3 separate regions of the Homo sapiens genome follow, and all the other regions are reported to be linked to region 3. Evidence: microRNA targets listed by miRTarBase, many of them from high-throughput screens and not tested one by one. Region 3 holds a microRNA gene; each other region holds the end of a gene's coding sequence.
Evidence for each region. Region 3 holds the annotated microRNA hsa-miR-6854-3p (UGCGUUUCUCCUCUUGAGCAG, at 3,637-3,657, opposite strand). A microRNA usually pairs through its seed, bases 2 to 8, with sites in the 3' UTR of a target mRNA and lowers its output. Matches are read on the target gene's strand: a 7mer-m8 pairs with bases 2 to 8, a 7mer-A1 pairs with bases 2 to 7 and ends in A, and an 8mer does both.

Region 1 (7,218 bases), not on the chromosome of region 3:
AAGCTAAAGGTTAATGGTGATTTTACAAAGGTGGAAAAGGAGACCTTGTTTTGCCCAAATCACAGGGGCAAAGCCATATGTCAAATCGTGTCCTATGACCAAGTAATCCTTTCTTCATTAGCATTTCCTTTATGGGTGAGGACTTAGTTAAAGCTTAACTCAAATTGCTTTTCAATGAAGATACATTTTTCCCTCTAGAAGCTGATATACAGATGAATTTATAGAGCCAAATTAAAGCCTAAAAAATTACTAAAATGTAAATCAGTATTGCAGGGCTAAGGCCACAAACAGGAAGTCAAAAGGCCAGACAAGAAAATTGTGCCTGCACCTCAGCTAGCTCAATTAGGAAATCTCCAAGGCTCCTAAAAGACTGAGAGAAAAAACCTGGAACATCATGATACGATCTGTGGCTGAGGTCAGAGACTGAACGAGCCAGTCTAGGAAAGAACAAAATTTCATTTTAATTCAGTTCCTTTTGTATGAGCACAGTTTCACTTTCAAGCATTTACTTCCCATATCTGATCCTCCTCTGCTATTGTGTCACCTTCAAAATTCAAATGTCCCCAATGTGATAGTATTAAGAGGTAGGGCCTTTAAGAAGAGATTAGGTCATGAGAGCCCCTCCTCTCATGAATGAAATTGAGGTTCTTATCAAAGAGGCTTCAGGCAGCATTCAGCTCATGTGCCCTGGCACCTTCTGCCATGTGAGGACACACAGCTTTTCTCCCCTGCAGAGGACCCAAGCACAAGGCGCCATCTGGGAAGCAGAGAGTAGCCCTCACTAGACAAGCAAACCTGCCCATGCCTTAATCTTGGACTTCCCAGCCTCCAGAACTGTGAGAGAATGAATTTTTGTTCTTTATAAATTACCCATTCTCAGGTATTTTGTTAAAGCAGCACTAAATGGGCTAAGACATCCACCAATGTTTACAAATGGTTTGAATGAATTGATGAAGACCCAAGACATGGACCACTCATCAAATCATAAAGTTTCTGAGGAATAAAAGCTTCAGCACTCATCTTGGCCAGCAAATTAGTGGAGAAACAAACTAGAGCCTTCTGCCCTGGTATGCCAACTATAATTGTCTTCAGGAGAAAACATGGAAGTTGTAGATACGTATACATTTCTTCTAAAACCCCAGTCATCCCTATTAATTGTAAAAACATCCACAGGATCCTCCTAAGAGTCATCGTCACTATAGTGAGTCAGACATTTGGAGAAGATCCCAAAAGCTGGAGCAGCAGCCGGAGCCCCGTCTCTGGGACCCCAGCCACTGGCTCTAGAACGAGCCACCAGGCTCTGCCCTCAGGGTGGGCTCCCACAACTACATTGTCGTCTTGTCTTTCATACAACTAAAGAGCCTTTCCCCAGATGAGGATGCCAGCTCTTACTGCTACCTCCCCCTAAAAGAATTCACCCATCCCATCTGAAATACTCAGTGGCCAGTGAGAACAGGCCAAGATGTGTATACCCTTGGTCGATTTTTTGTTTCCTTTTTTGTGGCTCTCTGAAAGACAGCCTGACTTATGCAGAGTAATAAAGTCATTTTCAAGGTTCTTTCATCTACCTCTAACAATCTCTCTAGGGCAAATAGAGTTCCGTTCATCATTAACAGACTCAAGGGAAAACAAAGTGATCAACACTGGACTCTATTTCCACTACCCCCACCCTCCCCAGCTTCAGGAAACAGCTTCAGCATTTGAGTGGGCAAATAAGAAACTATTTTTCTCATTTAACACTGTAGGCCTAGAGCCACGGTCTACATGCTTTAGACATCATTAGCAGTATTTAAATTGCCAAGGAAGACATGGGACTAAAACTAGAACAGACCACGGTTTCTCAACCTTGGCACTATTGAGGCTTTGGGCCAGATAATGCTTTACAGTGGGGGGCTGTCCTTTGCCTTGTAGGATGTTGAGCAGCATCTCTGACCTCCACCCATTGGATACCAGTAGTACTCCCGAGTTGTGACAACCAAAAATGTCTCCAGACATTGTCAAATGTCCTCTGGGAGGAGGGAAGCAAAATCTCCCCATGGCTTAGAACCAGTGGAACAAGCCAGTGTAACCACTGTATTCTGAGAATGGAATCTGAGCTGGCCCCCACGAATGCTTTCTATAGCAAATCACATTCAAGAGGTCCAATTCTGAAGACAGTCCTATTAAGCAAATTCTCTTTTGGCCTAACCCTCCAAATCCTAAAGTTCCATGGTTATGGAATTTGCTATGCAATCAACCTCTTTAGTCCGGTGACAATTAAGTTGTAAGCGCAGAAAACATGACATCTAATTTTGTGCTTATGAAACAGGAGTGGCCAGCATGAAGAGTTAGGCCTCATTTTACGGTGTGGCTGTGGAATTGGTTGGTTGTTTCTTTCGGGCTATTCCTTAGGGTTCAAACACTCTTCCTTGGCACTTCCTTTTGAAACCAAACTATGTTGACTTAGCTTTGGAAGTTTTCTGTGACCTCCCACAATCCTCTAGACAATCACTGAAATGCTTGGTTGATATTTAACAGATGTTTTTCTAATGCTACAAGGAAAGAAAGGTTCACATTTCACCACTTCATCTTCTGAATTATTTTCATTCTTACAACTACGACCTTGTGGCAGATTTTCATGCCCAACAGTAACATCGAAAAGAACAGAATTGCATCTGTGGTTCCCATCACAAGCAACAAAGACAGATACGACTCTGCGAGTCCAATTTTGACCGTGGTCAGACGACTTCATTAGAAAATAAAAATTCAAAGACTACAACCCACAGGAACCATGAAAACAAAAACATCACCATTTGCCAAAACCCGTTTGTCTGGATCGAGCAAGTTTATACTAACAAACTAAAGAATGAGAAAAAATTTATCTTGCAGACTGTAAAAGTTCCTCTACTTAAAAATGGAAGTATTTTCATTTTTAATTACCTTTGATTTGAATTCTTCTCTACAAAGAAATCTACATTATTAAATTGTAGTTGGCCTTTTAATAGATGAAAGATATCTTGAGCTGACCTGTTCCTGGTTAGCTGATTATAGAACTGGGTAATCCATTCTTCAGTAATCCTTTCCAAATGTCCTGTGTGACTGCTTGAAGAGCTTTCCAGCTCTGCAGTCCTATAAAATGACCTTAATAGCCAGTTCATGGTTCACTGGAAGTATTGACCAAATTTCCACAGTCAAACTCTTGGCAGAGAATGTCACCAATCGCTTAATTCCAGGATAGCAGTGTGCCCTAACCACCACGTGGCTTCCTCTATCCCACTCCAGAGGAAAACCCTCCCCACAACGTAAAGAAGGTCCCATCCATGATAATACACCTACACTGACACGCTGGTGATAGTTTTTCTTTCACAGTCTCTCAAAAAAAGAAGAGGTCATTGCACTAAAGCACACATTAGTTTAGATCATTGCTTTATTTCACTAATTGTTCAACAACAAAGTTCATTCCTCTCAAGGTGGATCTTGAATCATTCCTTGTGTTCTCTTCCTCGTTCTGAATAAAAAAGGTAATGAAGAAAAAGCCTGTACTTTTGGAGACCTAGAATCTTGATTGATGCTAATAAGCTTTTGACAGCAATTTCGTGTTACGGTATATCCTGCTGGCATCTTGGTGGTCACACGGAGCTCCCCACCCTCCAGTGAAGATGGCTGTCCACAACTACCACCATTGAAACCAAAAGTAAGTGTTGAAAAATGCACCTTTTACAATAAAAAAGTAGAAACCAATTCAATTTCCTCTTTTTTTTTTTACGAATATAAAGTTTCTTGTAAATATGTACAGTCTTTTGAGCTAGTTCTATATAGCAGAAAGCAGTTCACAGATGAGACACACAATATACATTTTCAGGGCTCAAGAAGCCCATTTCTCATGGAGATCCTAAATGAAATGCCAAGACTGAAAGACCCATTTTCAGTGACCTTTCCAAATACTGTGGACCAAGAGACAAAACTTCAGCAAACATTCAATCAAATCTGCCCTGGGGACGGGAGGGGAGGGAGTACGACCCCACAGACTCCAAGCAACACATAAAACGCCACAGCAGGACATTTGCCAAAGGAGCTACCACATGGAGGTTTGTAGGCGTTTCAAACAAGAAAGCACTTAGGTTAAGACACGAGCAGGAAGGAGCTGGGATGCAGGCCAGGTTGCAATCTGGAAAGGGATCTGAACTGTGGACACAGTTGAAAACACGGTCATGTTCACCTGCTGCGGTGGAAACGGGTCTACCTTTGAGCCTACCTAGGAGGTGCCTGGGTTGTTGAGGCGGGCCTAAGAGTCGTGGAGGACCCAAAGCAACAGATGCCTTGTGGGAGATTAAAGGCAGAAATAAGGCCGCGAGTTAGCTTGCCAACTGCAAAGCCTCTAGGTTGGTTCTGTACCAGTTGCCAGGAATTTCGTACTCTAATAGGAGGGTCCGCAGACCCAGTGGGAGCCGCACTGCACCTAAGGACTTCCCAACCCTGGCGGAGCTGGAAGAGTTGAGCTGCGGCTGCTTTCTCAAACTTCCTGGTCTTAGGTCTAGCCCTAGGGAAAGGCTCATTTGGAAAGTCACAGTTTCGTGGGGTAGAACCGCGCTGGATTGGGTGTGAACAGAGTCATCCTCTGCAGGCAGGGAAGTGTGAAGTTTGGAGGGGACACTGAGTGGGAGGTGGTGGTTTGCTGAAATCCTTCTCTGGTCGTAAGGCTTGAGCGTTTTGTTTTTTGTTTGTTCAGTGCTACAGACTGCAGCTTGTGGTGGCCAGTTAGTCGGCAAGTCGTCAGAGGGTCTCGATTTGGCAGGAGCTATGGGATGGTATTAATACATTGGCAGAGCAACCCAAGGGGGCAGCACATGCAGTGAACTGCCATGCAGAACTCCCGACGGGCCTCTTCCCCATCCCAGAGTGGGGAACAACACGCCGTCACAGACAAGGAAGTGGGTGCCCCCGTCCCCTCCCCGACCCCGAGACCCAGGAGTGCTGGGCTCCGAGCAAGTCTATTGCATGCTTTCCTGGCCAAAGCTATATGGAAAGCGGGAACAGCAGGCTGGGGAGATGACGCTGGGGGGTGGGGAAGGAAAGCGTCTCGAGGTCCCTTGGCCCCAAGTCACTGCCTCCGAGCTGAGGCCCCGATGACCTCCATACATTCTCAGCTGGTGGGAGGGGAAGTCGTCAAGGCCATAAAAGGCAATGAAAACAGTAAACATTTGGCTACGATGTCACCCTGGGGAAAGCAGGGCCATCTATGAGAATGAACAGGAACAAGGATGAACCTACTTGGCTGCGGGAGGTTGGCCAACTGACCGGGACTGTTCTACACTATGCCTCGGTGGCAAAGACCTGATGATGTGGTCGAGCTAAAAATGACTACAACAGGAAATACGTCGCTATTCAAATCTATTAAGAATTCTGTTGTCTTAAAAAAAAAAAAAAAAAAAGGAAAGAAACAAAGAGAAAAAAAAAAGAAAAACCAACCAATCCTAGGATCTTAAAGTAGCTAATTAGGATTCTAACCATGTTGTAGTTAGCATCCCGGTTGGTTTCCTTTGATGAACTAACTGGTACAGGCTAGAGCTAGGTACAAAAGTTTGTGAATGCTTTGAAAGAGTAACAAAGTGCAAAGAGATGACTGCAGGGAGGTGCCCAGGGCAGGCACCGGGCGCTGACAGCTCCGAAGAGCCTCAGCCACCTGCCCCTCCTGGAGACAGGGGTGTCCGTGCCGAGGTGGGTCTGGGCCCCGCTGAGCCAGAGGGTGGCTGAGCACGTGGGCGCTTGGGTCCCCATCAGCAGAGTTCCATAGTGTGTTTGGTGTTTTCCTGCAGATCAAGATGAGGAGTTGGTTTTTCTGGCTGAGATTTATACTGAAGACTGGTCCCAGACCTAGGAGTGAAATAAGGAGGAGTGTTAGCCATCCGAGGCCAGAAGTTGCTGTGCTCACCTTGCATGATGCAAATGGGAATCTGCAGCCCCTGGGCTATCCCCTTCAGCAGCTAGCAGTGAGTGCTTGGCAGGGCAGCACCCGCTCCAGAGCCTGGGGAAGCCAGGGAGTGAAACTCACTGGAAAATCCCAAAGCCGTGTGTGTACCTGCGATGCTGTAAGCATGTGATACACACACATGCACATACACAGTTTCATCGGTCAATTGGGAGGGATAAGAAGCCATATGGATGGTGTTTCCTTCTTTCTTTACCAGCAGGTGAACTGCAGGTGGCATCAGAAGGAGAATGCCACCCAGAAAATCAGCCCCAAATGGCAGAAAGGTGGCTCCTTGACCTGCTTAGCCTGCTAAGGAGGCACCAAGCACTTGAGCCATGCCCTGCCTGGGGGAGCCCCTGGTCTTCCACACCCATCCCTCTCCTCGATCGCAAACCTAAAATTACACAGATCATTCATGCACATGATTTAAACATTTCCAAAAGTTCAAAGTTCTTCTGGAAGGCAACCACTGTGAACACTTTCTGTGTAGCCTTCCAGAAAAACAATTTATATATACACATGTGTGGGCTGAGCGTGGTGACTCACGCCTGTAATCCCAGCATTTTGGGAGGCCAAGGTGGGAGGATTGCTTGAGCCCAGGAGTTCAAGACCAGCCTGGGCAACATAGCGACATTATGTCTCTAAAAAAAATAAAAAGGGCCGGGGGTGGGGGTGGGAATCAGACAGATGGTGGCTTGAGCCTGTAGTCGCAGCTATTCAGGAGGCTGAGGCTGGAGGATCACTTGAGCCCAGAAGTTCAAGGCCGTGGTGAGCTATGATCACACCACTGCACTCCAGCCTGGGCAACATAGTAAGACCCTGTCTCTAAAACAAAACAAAACAAACAAACAAACAAACAAACAAAAAGTGGGGGAAAAAGTTAGCCAGACATGGTAGCTACAGCCCATATTCCCAGCTACTCAGGAGGCTGAAGTGAGAGGATCACTTGAGCCCAGGAGTTTGAGGCTGCCGTGAGCTATAATCACGCCACTGCACTCCAGCCTGGGGTAACAGAGCAAGACGCTGTCTCTCAAAAGAAAAAAAAAAAAAGAAAAGCATATGTGTGTATGTGTGTGAATCTATATCTATGTTTGAAAAAAGCATGCAACATTTCATATAGGATGCTATCATTTGGGTTTCAAAAGGAGAGCACACATATATATTTGCTGGTACGCACAGAATATCTCTAGAAACTGCTACCACTTGCCTCTGGAGAAGGGAAAACATTTTTTGGTAGCTATTATATTTTGAGTTACATGCATACATAT
Region 2 (7,218 bases), not on the chromosome of region 3:
TTTGGAAGGAAACTAGCTGACACCAAATTGGACTGTTTTTTCCTCCCTGGGTCTTCAGCTGCAAAAATGTGCACTGTGCTGTGGTCACTGGATATGCAGATGAAGGACTCATCTTGATTGAAGTTAATGCAGAAAACATTAGCTGCTTGAGATCCTCTTCATAGTTCCTGGATTAAATGTCCTGATGAGGTATCAAATATTCTTATAAGGGTCCCTTTTGCGAGTGTGGTTGCAATTCTTGTTCCCTGCAGGTTGAGTATCATGCAGCTCAGGATGCCCTCAGGAGCGGGAATGTCCACAGGTGGCTTCTCTGTGCTGGCCCAGTCCACGAGCTGAACATGGCTCGTGTGCATGCCTGGCAAGGCCAGAAGAGAGTTGTTGCTATTGGGACAGAGGACAGAGGCCTTTAGGGTTTTAGGAGGTTTCAAAGATGTACAACTGATGGGGGTTCTGTGTGAGTGCAAACACCTTAATCATGGAGTCCAAAACAACCACAATTCTATCTCGCTGCAATTTGACTGCCTTGACTTCTGTAGCAAATTCTATTTCATTAACAGTCTTCTTTTTCAGTCATCTCAGATCATCACTTTGTTGGGAAGGTATTTTGGCTTTTTTCCACCAACAACTAAAGCTAAATAGTTGCAGCAAAATAACATTTCATTATGACCAACTCTTCCTCCTAGAAATTTGTTTCTCTTTTTATTTTAATGGATTGGTGTTATAGACTCAGAATCCGTTTTCCATCCCACAAGCAAGGCATCCGTGGTCTTGGCTGAAGCCGGTGTAGAGCAGCTAGTTACTGTGGGAGTTACAGGGTAGGAGGATCATGGCGCCACTGGGCTGGCCCTCCCATTCTCAGCGAGCTGCCTGGGGAGGCTGGCTGGCTGGTCCGGTCCCACCAGGCTGGTGCTAAGGCCGCCCCAGGAATGGAAGTTTCATAGTATTGTCTTTATGAAGACAAATTTCTCTCAAGCCTGAGCACCATTTGCCCTGAACAAACATGTTTGTTTTTATCTTCTGGAAATTGTGAATTTGTTGACTGTATGTTTACCGCCCCGCCCCTCCTCCCCCGTTTTTTTTTTTTTTGTTTTGTTTTGTTTTTGTTTTTGTTTTTGTTTTTGAGATGGAGTCTCACTCTGTCGCCCAGGCCGGAGTGCAGTGGCGCGATCTCCGCTCACTGCAAGCTCCGCCTCCCAGGTTCACGCCATTCTCCTGCCTCAGCCTCCCGAGTAGCTGGGACTACAGGCCCCCGCCACCATGCCCGGCTAATTTTTTGTATTTTTTAGTAGAGACGGGGTTTCACCGTGTTAGCCAGGATGATCTCGATCTCCTGACCTCGTGATCCGCCCACCTCGGCCTCCCATGTTTCCCCCTTTTGAAGATACCAGCATGCTCAGATTCAAATTTTAGGTCCACCTCTGACAAAATGCCTAGAATGTTATCATGTGACCCCACTCTGTTTATTGTATACATATTTTCCCTCCCCTCAAATGTTGTTTCTCCCTATTAAGGGGTTGTTATACTCCCAATAAATATATAAACCTACTATGTACCCACAAAAATTAAAAAATAAAAATTTAGAGGAAAAAAGATATTGTTATAGTACTAGATATACTTTTGCAGGCCCACATTTTAAAAAATGAATAAAGGTGAGAATAACTCAAAATTTAGTAGCTGTAATAAGAGAAAAAAATAGCTTGCTTTCTGAAAAAGCTACAAGGAAAATACAATTCATAAGTTCCAGACAACACCACCAGCTACCAACATAACAAATCTTTCAGCCTAAGGGCAGGTCCCTTCTCTCATCCATCTGCCTTTGGCGTAGTTACAATGACAGAGATGGTACCTCAGCAGGCTGGCACCTTTTCTTGCTCAATGTTTGCTTTTAATTTTTATTTCATTTTTTAAAAATTTTTATTTTTTTGAGACGGAGTCTCACTCTGTCACCCAGGCCGCTGTGCAGTGGCAGGATTTCCGCTGACTTCAACCTCCGCCTCCCAGGGATCAAGCAATTCTCCTGCCTCAGCCTCCCGAGTAGCTGGGATTACTAGTGCACACGACCATGCCTGGCTAATTTTTATATTTTTAGTAGAGATGGGGTTTCGCCATGTTGGCAAGGCTGGTCTCGAACTCCTGACCTCAAGTGATCCACCCACCTTGGCCTCCCAAAGTGCTGGGATTACAGGCATGAGCCACCACACCTGGCCAATGTTTGCTTTTTAAACAAAGCAAAGAAAATTGAGATGAATTGTTCCAAAACGTTTTAATTATCATGAATATCATAAGTCATACAAAAAAATAAAGAATAATACAACCAACACTCATGCACCTGCCATCCTATAGCTTAAACATACTATATCACATCTGACTATTACCTAGTCTGTCTTTCCCCAATTAGTGATGCCTCTATAGTGAGATCTATAAATGTTGGTTCTGTTTCTTTTGTTTCTGAAACTCTAGAACCTGTTCAGTACATATTGAATAAAAAAGCAACTTTTCACTGAAAGAGAAGGATAAGCGGACATCTTTCAACAGCAGAAAATGTATATCACTGCCTGTTCTTCTCCATCCACAAGGCTGAGGAGGGGATGAGGCTGACTCTCAATGGGGAGAAGTCAGCACCGCCACCCTCCTTAAAGGATTCTTGATGCTCACCAAACTATGCAAAAGAAAACCTCTCTTCTGGCTAAAAGGACCATGACGCGAATGCCCAGAAAGACAAGTTATTGTCTGTTCTCACCAAGTTTTTTTAAAAAAGGACTTTTTGTGACTCTAACACCAAGGTTTGGTGTTAGAATTAAATTCAAGGGACATGACATTGTCTTTGATTTTGTTATACACTTTGAGAAGCACATAAGGCTGAACTCCAGGAGATAAGAACCAAGGAGGGGACATAAAATCATAAATGTCCATAAACTCTGAATATGAAGCCACTCTACAGATACACAAAGTACATTTTTAGCTGAAACTTCATACAAGAAATATTGAAGGTAGACACTAAAGAAAAAATGCATTTAAAATTCATTTTAAATTAATAAAATATATTTAATTAATATTCAATCAATTAATGATAAAAATAGGGGCAGCTTTAAATAGTCTGTCAACAAATTTTGAGTATTGTCTGCTGACACTAGAGATATACTGGCACAGGACTTGTCCTCATGGAGCTTACAGTCTAGTGAAAACAGATCAATGTTAAATCAGTAATTATAAGTAGATAACCAAATAATAGTGCTGTAAAGGAGAGGATCTGCATTAAAATGTCTGAAATCAAAAGCTGGGCACAGTGGCTCACACTTGTAATCCCAGAACTTTGGGAGGCTGTGGCGGGAGGATGGCTTGAGCCCAGGAATTCAAAACTAGCCTGGGCAACAAAGTGAGATGCCATCTCTACCAAAAAGAAAAAAAAGAAAAAAAAAATTAGCTGGATGTGGTGATGTGTGCCTGTAGTCCCAGCTACTTGGGAGGCTGAGGCAGGGGAATCGCTTGAGCCCAAGAGGTCAAGGCTGCAATGATCTGTGATCATGCCACTGCACTCCAGCCTGGGTGACAGAGTGAGACCCTGTCTCAAAAAAACAAAAAGCCTGAAATCAGTCATGAAAGTATCTACTGCAAAAGGTGACATAGACGTGGATAAGAAAAACATATTCTTGATGACAAAAGTGACCTAATTTTTTTTTTTTTTTTTTTGAGATGGAGTCTTGCTCTGTCACCAGGCCGGTGTGCAGTGGCATGATCTCGGCTCACTGCAACCTCCGCCTCCCGGGTTCAAGCGATTCCCCTGCCTCAGCCTCCCAAGTAGCTGGGACTACAGGTGCATGCCACCATGCCCAGCTAATTTTTTGTATTTTAGTAGAGACGGGGTTTCACCGTGTTAGCCAGGATGGTCTCGATCTCCTGACCTCATGATCTGCCCACGTCAGCCTCCCAAAGTGCTGGAATTACAGGTGTGAGCCACCGCACCTGGGCAAGTGACCTAATTTTTGTAGAGCATGCCTTCTTACTTGTTTTCCATCATAATTAATATGATGCATTTGTCAGCGGAAGGTCTTGGAAATGGGGCAATGTGCCATCTGGAAAGTTCCCTCCTGCATGAAACTGGCCTGAGTAGGTGGATAAATCCATTACTTTAGGGCATTGTTCTCCTATCAGTTAGCTGATGAGGACAAGTCCACTCATATGATGTGGCAGTGCTGAGTCTTTGAAGAGGTTGCGTTTTTAATAAACAGTTCAAAACAATAAACCCCACCCCACCCCACCTAACTTCATTTGCCTCTTCTTTCGGTGATCTCAGGAACCAGAGTCAGAGTTGTACTTTTTACCCTTAACTCTTCACAGCACGTGAGTGTGCAATCATTAGGCTCCATCTCAACAATCCTTGAGAACAGAGCACACCTCATCTTTCAAATCTCACCTAGTGCTGGGAACAACACAAAGTCCTACAAATGTGATAATGAAACAAACTGACCCTGAATCCCACAGGCTCTGAACAGATACATTAGGGAAGCCTGAGCCTGGAGCCTGCTCTCCAACTGAGCAGCAGGAGAGATGGGGTGGCACAGGCTTTCAAAAGATGCAGTGGGCTGCAGCAGGCAGACATTTGGGGGAGAAGTGACTGGAAAAATACAACCATCCAGGGGGAAGATGATGAAGGGACTGGGTTCACACATGGACAGCAGGCTTCAGAAGGACGCCAGCAGAATGAATGTGGAGTGGATGTACTCACTCTGCATTGCTCCAGAGGACAGGGTAAGACCCCAGGCTGGAAGTCATGCAGAAGCAGATAAGGCACACACAAGCTCCGCACAGGGAGAAACTTCTTAGAAACTCAGCGGGATGGGTAACTTCATTAGAGAATGAGATTTCCTCACTGGACATTTTCATCTGGAGGCTGCAGGAGCAGTGGTCAAAGATGATACAGACAGGATTCCTGAATGCCAAAGTTCCTCCCTCGATAGGATTTGGAGGCTCTCGGGTGATGGACCAACACCATCCTGTGGGCTTGTGGAGGGGAGGATGACAACCTGCATAAGCACAGCCATCACTGAGTGTAACTTCAGGCTCGTGAGCCATCCTCAGTGCATCAACTCAGTGGGGGATGAGGACGGAGGCCAGGGATGGGAAGCAACAGGAAAGGAATTGCTGGCCTGTGCCTTTGCTCAGAATATAAATATTCTGGTAGAAACTCCCCTCAAGGAATGTGGTCACAAGTTACCCTCTGGGCCCCTGAGCATAAACCCACACCATCATGTACATGGGAGGAGAGGAGCACCTTCTCATACCCAGGATCACTGGGCATAGACTCCCTTCCTCACTACAAACGGGTTGGAGAGATCCAAAGATGCTCTCTAAAAACAAAGTAACAATGTGAGAAAATGGCAAAATAGGGACCCGCAGTAAGTTCAATCTTCCCAGTGAACTTCATTAAAAATTTCATCTGATTACAAGTGATTATACTTCAAATACCTACAGGAGCCTCACTGGATGTGGGTGCAGCATTCGTTCCTGAGGCCTCAGAAGTGCTCTCCTGAGCACAGCCAGTGCAAATTTGCAGGGTGAGAAGTCAAAGGCAGAAGGAAGCAGGTGAGAGCATTCCCTGCCTCTAAAGAAAAAGAGCTCTCCTTATTCAAAACATCAAGTTCTACTGAACCAAGTTGCAGATCTTAACAATAATAGAGATCACTGTAAAAGAGAAACTTTATGCTAAAAATTTTTTTTAGGAGGTAACATCCTGGTGTTTCTCAGATGCAGGTAAATCATGACCTTCCACATTCTCTTTCAACACAGGGAGCACCTGAGATCCTACAGACAGGAAACATGGGGAGGATAAATCCAATGATGCATGCATCAGGTACATGCCAAAGTTCACCTGTGAACAAAACAGCAACAACAACAAAAAAGGCTAGATTATTTTAGCAATTAAAATAACTTTGTAAATATTAATGTTTAACTAAAATCAAGTCAGATTTTTAAAGACATATACTGAGACTTGATATCTCCTATCTGTTACACAGTAGAATGCACTGGAACATTAAGAGAATCCTAACTTTAGACCCCAAAGATTCTCATTCTAAGGCATCCTTTCCCTGTGGTCACCCCACACCTCTTTCTTGCTGGGCACATCTCTGTCCCACATGCCCTGAACTTCCTGCAGAAGGACTTTCTTCCTACTCTCAGCTTGTGACCACCATCAGGCCCATTTCCTGTTTGCTGCCTGATGTAAAAGCCTTTTGGGGAAGACAGTGGCAGAACTCTGCATTTTCCTTGAGAAAGAATGATGCAAGTTAATTTTGTCAAATTCTCCTGAATAAGGATGGAAGGTCCAAAATGAAGAGTAGGTAAGTCTGCTCAATGTTAACCATCAATGCAAGTGAACCACTCAGGACCCTTTGGAGGACTTGACATGCTCTCCGATCTGTTAGTTCTTGTGATAACATCTGTTGGACACCCTCATGTTCCAGGCCCCAGGCTAGGGGATTGGGCCAATTCCTCATGATTTGTACAAATGTGGGTGAAAAGTGCAGCCTCTGCACTCTCACTGCAACTGTTCCGTAAATCTAAAATTATTCCAAAATTTAAAAATAAAAGGTTCATCATGCACATGAAAATTGCAGTGATGCTGAGAAACACTATTTTCATGGACCTTAGTATTGTATTTGTGCCTTCTTCTTTCTTCTCCTGGCAACCTGCATGGTGCAGGCTCAAGGTCCCCACACCCCAGACAACACAGCCTGCATTGACAGACATGCTGCTGTAACAGTCAAATGCACTACTCTGCAGGCCATTTCTATCCCATATTGGTAAGAAAACTTACATAAATCAAATGTCTATACTGTGAAACAAAACCCTGGCTTTGAAGAAACACAGGAAACAATGTAGCACATTTTACCATGAATTAACTTGCCAGCTTATTATTGGAAGTAGATACAGTGTTTGCATTATTTCTGTTAATTTTCAAGAATTGTTCTATGTAGCCTGACTGCTTTTCTTGGCTTCCTGGAATTCTTTGAAAACAAAAAGTCCTAACAGAAAGTATAAGCCTGAAAATAAATCTTTCTAAAGAATCAACACATTGGAAGTTCAGTTTCTATAATCTGGAATTCATAACAACACTTTGTTGTTTTAACCCTCAAGAAAATGAATTTCCAGGCTTAATGAATGTATTTCCAGTTTAATGAAATGTACTGACTCTTTCTATGCAGCTACTCTATTCACATT
Region 3 (7,218 bases):
CTTGGAGAAGGAGGTTAGGGCCCCAATCCTGGCTTTTCCAGCTGCCTGCGCATGGGCAAGTCACCCAACTCCTCTGAGCTCCTCAAATGCTGGCTTAGCCCCTGGGAGACCCTGAGCATGCAGACACTCTGAGAACCTCAGTTTCCCTTTCAGAGTAAGGGGATGAAAACTATTGTAAGGACAGAGATAACACATGGGAAGGCTCAGCACAGTCCTGGGGCCGCGCTTCATACCAGCAGTTCCCATGCTCACATCTTCTCTTCCCCACTAGATGGTGAGGTGCCCAAGGGCAGGGATTTGTCTGCAATGTGCTCTCAAGAGCATCTCGCAGTGTTTGAGATAGAAATTCCTAAAGAGTCACGAAAGCCACTGGCAATGGCCAGATCAGCTAGGATAAGACCCCAAATTCCCATGTCCTCCTGAAGTTTGAGGTAGACAGGAGGTGCCTTCCCACTAAAGAAACACAGGAAGGTACCTCGCAGGGGTAGCTCCTGGGATTCCAGGTGCCCATCTTCCCAGCTGATGAATGGGACTCTAATGAGGGTCTCAGATGGACAGCGGCTCTCCTAGCGGCATTCTGAGTGCCTGGGGGCACCACTGGGCACCCAGAAGTTGTGCTGGCTTTTTCTGTCTCACCTCTTTGGTTTCAGTATCTGGGCTACAGGTGAAACCCTAGAGTTACGGGGCTGCCATTCCTCCCTTCCTAATGTGGAATGAAGACCTAAGCTCCCTGATCACTGCTATGGCCCCACGGCACATTTCCTGAAGGCACTGATGGGCTCTCACTTCCCGCCTCGTCTCTGAGCCCCTCAGCAGGGCACCTCACTGCTTGTAGGGCAGGAAGAGATTGACATGGAGGGTAAGGAGGGCTGCAGTAATCGCCAGAACAACCAGAGCCTGCATCTGTTGGGCAGCTGCTGGGTGCCAGGTACTGGGCTTTATGAATCTGGGCACAGGTCTCTCCAGTAAACACGGCTGCAACTCCATTTACAGAAGAGGAAACTGAGGCTTAGATAGGTTAAGAAACTTGCTTAGGGCCAGAATTTGAGCCTGTGCTGTCTTATTTAAAGGCTGGTTCTTTGAATCACCCTGAAGACTGAAGTTCATTTGTGGAATGGGTTGGAGAGTAAACAAATCCACTCCTATTGCACAATAATTGGATAAACTAAATAAATCACAACTCATTCTCCTTTTGACCCTCTGTCCCAGGACACAAAGTCGAGGTTTGGTGGAAGGTTACCTGGTAGAAAAAAAATCCAGATTCTTCAATGCATCAACAACTTCCTCCTGACAATTTCCCTCTGAATATATGGGAGTTGTCAATAGCCTGGTCAACCCTTATTAATCTCCAAGAATCTTGCCTTTATTTATTGAAGAATGATGAGTCCTCCAGAGATGCAGAGCAATCAGGGGCAAACTTTCATGAAATCTAGGTTTCCTGGGGCCTTTCTACTTCATCTGACAATTTGTAATGTCTTAGAAAGAAAGGCTGTGTCAAGAGAGGCTGCCCGTATATTCAGGATTTCTTTTTCTTTCCAGGTTTGGGTTTCGGATTTAAGCTCTACTAGTCCAGGGATCAAGTAGCTGCTATGGCTCTGTTTCATGCCCTCTCAGCTCTCAGGAGCGTCCAGCAGCCTCAGAACTGGAGCACCATGATGACAGGAGGAAAAGACAGCTGGGCTGCTAAGCAGCAGCAGAGGGGACCTCACGTGTTATAACTACACATTTGGGTGTTGCTTTGTTTAATGTCTGTCTCTGCCATGAAATGCAAGCTGTAAGGGCAGAGCCTGTGTCTTTTGCTCATTGTTCTTTCCCAGCACCTGGAACACTGCATGCACATAACAGGCCCTTAATAAAAATTTGGTGAATAAACACATGAGTTAAGAACGTATGAATAAATGAGCCCCCTCCTTTGAGAACTCTAATGTCTAATCACCAGTTGCTTCACTAAATGTAACTCCTGGCCAGGCACGGTGGCTCACGCCTGTAATCCCAGCACTTTGGGAGGCTGAGGTGGGCAGATCACTTGAGGTCAGGAGTTCGAAACCAGCCTTGCCAACATGGTGAAACCTAGTCTCTAATAAAAATACTAAAAACAAAAACCAAAAAACAAAAAAAAATTAGCTGGGCATGGTGGCAGGTGCTTGTAATCCCAGCTACTTGGGAGGCTGAGGCAGGAGAATCGCTTGAACCCGGGAGGCAGAGGTTGCAGTGAGCCAAGACTGCACCACTGCACTCCAGCCTGGGTGACAGAATGAGACTCTGTCTCAAAAAAAAAAAAAAAAAAGTAACTTCTGACATGCCAGGAATGAAGCCTCTGCCGGTTCCCCTGAGATCTGCTGACAGTGGTCACTGCTTAGGGGCAGAAAAGGCAGACGAGGGGCCAAACTAGGTATAGGGAGAGCATTTTTTCTAGATTTCTTCCCACCAAAATAGGGCAGAAAAGAAAAGAAGAAATGTACAAGTTATAAGAAATATTCAGAAGGTAATAGGGCATAAGCCCCACCTCCCCAGCCTAAGTCCTCTGGAGTCAGGGCTGGAAAACAAAGCAGAAAGGGCCTCCGGGCAGCCAAAGTTCAAACACAAAAGCTTAGGCCTTCCTCTAGAGGAAAAGGAGTCTGGGCCCTCACTGGAGCCCGCCACTGCCACCACAGGTCCTACCAGGCCCCACCGTTGGGATTTATGTAACAACTGCCTAACTTAGTCGCTTTTATCACTCTAAAGAGGGGCTCCCGCCCGGAGCTGCAGCCCTCTCACATCTTTGCCCTGGGACCCTCACTACTTCATAAGGTAGCCCCTGGCTTTTAATACCATTTACTCTCTGGGATGTAGGATTTTGGAGTAGTTTTAATGTCTGTGTGTATGAGATCTGTTTTCTACAATTATTATATAGCTCTTGTAACTCTCGTAATTAACTTCTTACCATATTAAGCCCAAATATTCCTTTCACTGTTTCTGTGTTGGTCCTGGCTTAGCCCTGGGCCACACACATGCTGCTTGTTTGCTTTCTCCTGTGACAGTCTTGTGACGGTCATTCAGATATCTGTGCCCAGATATCGGCTGCCAGGTCAAAGTTCCCCCCAGTTCTATCGACAGCCCCTCCCATGACCCTGCATCCAGATCACCTGCCTCTAAATAATGTCATTTTCTGGGTAGGGGGTGAGACCATGCATGGCCCTCCAGGAGGGGTCCAAGAGACAGTTATTAGAGTAGATCTCCAGAGATACCTGCCCTTGGTGCCCTTTTGTGACTTACTTTGAGTGACATCAGGTTCTTGAGTAATCAACAGCATATTTCAACATTCTGCAGTTTGGCCTTTAAAGACCAGAGAGTAGCTGGTGCCCAGCACGGCTAATGCGTCCCATCTAGCTTATCCGAAAGGCTCCAGGAACTGGAGGGGTCCACTGGAACCTGGGGCCTCCCTGGGACCAGACCTCACCTTCTGAGACTTTAACTCCTTGGTGAGCATCAGAACCTGTTGCTCCAAGGCTGCCACTTTCTCCTGGGCAGTTCGGTTCCGTGTGATTCCTTCAGAAAAGAATGGGAAGGTGTTGTTCTGGCGCTTGGCTTTCTGAGCGAAACTGATGGTCAGAGAAGGCTTGGGTGCAGGCTTTGGAGAATCCTCTGGCTCTCTCCCTGCTCAAGAGGAGAAACGCAGAAGTTATGACTGATGACATCAGCAGTTCTCAAACCTGAGCTTGCTTTAGAAGCACCTGGAGGGCTTGTTAAAATGCGGATGGTTGGGCCCTAATTTCGGAGCTCTGGATTTAATAGGTCTGGGGCAGGGCTTGAGAATATGCACTTCTAAAAAGTTCCTAGGTGATGCTGACACAGCTTGTCCAGGGGTTAGACTGTGAGAACCACTGGCCTACATAAACGTTATTGCACTGTGCTGGCCCATCTGCTAAACTGTGCCTGTCTCCTTCCTTCAGATCCCACCCAGCCTGCATTGGTCTATCTCATGCCACCCTGCTGGTGTTTGCCAAGTGGCTTTCTCCTCAGGCACAAGCCCTGGCAGGATGTTCTGTTCCTTATTTCAGGATCCCACCTCTATGTACTAGGAGATTTTCAAAGCACACAGATCTGTCTGATGATAGGAACACAAAATGAATGTCTGTACTCTGCATTCTTGCTCCAGAGAGCAGCTCAAGCATTTAACTTGATTCTTCTTATTCCAAGCTAAGTTAAGAGATATATTTCCCCCACAGTTGATTGTCTCAAGGATGCATAGTCCTTTTATCTCCTGGGTTACAACCTATGGTTCACAGGCCAAATCCAGCCCACAGCCTGCTTTTACAAATAAAGCTTTATTAGAACACGGCCATGCCCATTTGTTTATGTGCTGTCTATTGCTGCTTTTACTCCTCAAAGGCAGAACTGAGTGCTTAAAACAGAAACCCTATGGCCCACAAAGCCTCGAATCGTTACTATCTTGCTCTTTACAAAAAATGTTTGCCACCCACTGTTTTTAAGTCATCAAAATTTTATTCTTAAATCAAACCAAACATCAGAGAATCATTCCCTTGTGTTGCCTTGTCCTGCCCTGACCCAGCTGTGCTTCTGGTCTCTGCCATCAGCCTGCATCAAGGGACATTTAAGGGCCTGACTATGTAGCCAAGGGCCCTTGAGAAGCTTGTTCACATGGGATATATACATCATGCCTATTATGAGTCCCCAGCAGAAGAAATTCCCTTCAGCCCTAGGAACTTCCAAGAAAAGCTTTGCTTCTTATAAGAAAATATGTTTTTAGTCTTATGGACACTGGAAATAATCTAGCTGCTTGCATTTCCCTCTTTGCCTTGGCTGCTGAGCTTACAGCCACATTTACTGCCTACTCTCAGATATTTTGTAGGATCGTAAATTGATCTTATCTAAATCTCCTAACCAAATTACTCATTTGCAGGAGTATGCATTTTAGTAAACTATTACCTATTTCTTGGGACTAAAGTGTTAAAGGTGTTGAAAATAAGAATGTGGTATGGCATCCCAGGATAGGGGACACGCAGGGCTTTGGGGATAGGCCAAATGACTTAGCATGAGACCAGGCCAAGGGCTGGCCAAACAGTCTTGAACAAATAAAGAGTTACTCCAGTAGGTGACAGGAACCAGACACTGAGTGCAAAAACAGTACCTTGCTCGGCCGGGCGTGGTGGCTCACGCCTGTAATCCTAGGACTTTGGGAGGCTGAGGCGGGTAGATCACTTGAAGTCAGGAGTTCGAGACCACCCGGCCAACATGGTGAAACCCCGTTTCTACTAAAAATACAAAAATTAGCCAGAAATCACTTGAACCCGGGAGGCAGAGGTTGTAGTGAGCCGAGATCATGCCAGTGCGCTTTAGCCTGGGCAACAGAGCGAGACTCTGACTCAAAACAAACGAACAAAACAACAGTGCCTTGCTGAGTGCAAAACCAGAACAGTCTTGTTCCAGATCGAAGAGAAATCAGGTTACACTGGGTACAAGGCAGCCTGCAGAGCTCAGAAATATGTACTACCTCTTTCTCCTTCCTGTAATGGGGTATAGGGGAGCAGGGAAGCTCCTTGTAGCACTGCTGCCCTCTGATACATGACTGTGCACCAACTCTGAGGACAGGCAGGGCAGGCCTCACAGTGCCCAGTTTATAATTAGAGAAAATAAGGCCTAAGACAGTGGTGTTCAATCAGTGCCCTGGATTTCATAGGAGTGCCTCAAGGGCTGACTGGGAGAGGAAGGTGGAGTAAGAGGAGCAGAGGAGGAGTCCAGACTCCAACTCCAGCCTCAACTCTGCTTTTTTTTTTTTTTTTTTTTTTTTTAATTTGTAGCTCATTTAGAGTCTCAAAAAGAATTTAGGTGTTTTTTATTAGTGTTCAAGAAACTCATTTGTACATATTAGAAAAGATTTATTGACATAAAAATAATCTTTTCCTCCATTTAAAAATCTGATTACAACCACTGTTTAACACAGTGTAAACACCGTTTAACACAGTTTAACACAGTGTTGAGATATTCAACACTTTATTAGAAAATAGGTTTTGTGTTAGATGATTTTGCCCAAATGTATGTGTTCCAAGCATGGTTAAGATAGACTGGGCAAAACTATACTGTTCAATAGGTTAAGTATATTAAATGCATTTTCAACTTATGATATTTTCAACTTATGGTGGATTTATCTGCTTTATATATTAGATTTTGTTCTGTCACTCACTCTGTGGCCGTGAGCAAGTCACTCCACCCTTCCATGCCTCAGTTTCCTTATTAATCTAATGAGGATAACAACAATATATACAATATATACAGTTCCAGTTGCTGTAAGAATTAAATAGGTCAAGGTAGGTAAAGTGCTTGGTACACACAGATGAAACTTGAAAAGATTCTACTAAGTCAAAGAAGCCAGTCACAGCATGGTATATTCCTTGGTATATTCCACTCACAGCAGATGTCGAGAACAGGCACAGCCATAGAGAAAGAAAGATGAGTGGCCACCTAGGGTTATGGGGCAGTGGGGATTAAGGTTGATGACTAAGGGTGCAGGTTTCTTTTTGGGGTAATAAAAATGTTCTAAAATTGATTATAGTGACGGCTGCATAATTCTGAGGATATACAGAAAGCCACTGAATTACACATTTTAAATGGGTGAATTGTATAGTACATGAATATATCTTAATAAAGTTGTTGCCAAAAAAAATGCTTACTGCCGCACTGGCATGAAGTAACTGCTAGTGTTATGATGATGGTGACTCATCCGATATAGCACTGGCCTTCTCTTGGACTGCTTGTTGTGCTCTCTAGGGCTCTGCCAGGCACTGACTGCTCCAAAGGGTGCTTTTTCTTTTCTTCTTTCTCTTTTTCTGTTTTTTTTTTTGACAGTGTCTCACTCTGTCACCCATGCATGATCACGGCTCACTGCAGCCTCGACCTCCCTGGCTCAAGTGATCCTCCCAGCTGAGCATCCCAAGTAGCTGGGACTACAGGCTTGCACCATGATCAGCTAATTTTTTTATTTTTTTGTAAAGACAGGGTCTCCCTGTGTTGCCCAGGCTTGTCTTGAACTCCTGGGCTCAAGCAATCCTCCAGCCTTGGCCTCCCAAAGTGCTGGGATTACAAGCGTGAGCCACCATGCCCAGCCTCTTCTTAATTTTTTACTCTGAAAAAATTATAGACTCACAGGAAGTTGCAAAGATAGTGCAGACATGTCCCAAGTACTCTTCACCAAGCTTCCCCTGATGGTGACATCTTACA

Region 1: miRTarBase lists CIT as a target of hsa-miR-6854-3p. Seed matches in the 3' UTR shown: 7mer-m8 at 4,076-4,082.
Region 2: miRTarBase lists MOCOS as a target of hsa-miR-6854-3p. Seed matches in the 3' UTR shown: 7mer-A1 at 4,212-4,218.

Annotation. Positions count from the first base shown.
Region 1 is chr12:119,682,403-119,689,620 of GRCh38, forward strand. CIT (citron rho-interacting serine/threonine kinase) reads right to left here. Exons shown (of 48, transcript NM_001206999.2): 48 at 3,389-5,853. The coding sequence ends at 5,830. It overlaps LOC124903033 (a long non-coding RNA gene), which reads right to left and starts at 3,084. Exons shown (of 2, transcript XR_007063485.1): 1 at 2,920-3,084. RefSeq lists an enhancer at 5,348-6,218.
Region 2 is chr18:36,267,184-36,274,401 of GRCh38, reverse strand. MOCOS (molybdenum cofactor sulfurase) reads right to left here. Exons shown (of 15, transcript NM_017947.4): 15 at 2,245-5,869. The coding sequence ends at 5,717. It also overlaps the pseudogene LOC791126. Among named protein-coding and RNA genes, the nearest start is that of FHOD3, 27 kb to the left of the region's middle.
Region 3 is chr9:98,225,513-98,232,730 of GRCh38, forward strand. MIR6854 (microRNA 6854) reads right to left here and starts at 3,705; the gene lies at 3,637-3,705. TBC1D2 (TBC1 domain family member 2) reads right to left here. Exons shown (of 13, transcript NM_001267571.2): 5 at 3,440-3,636.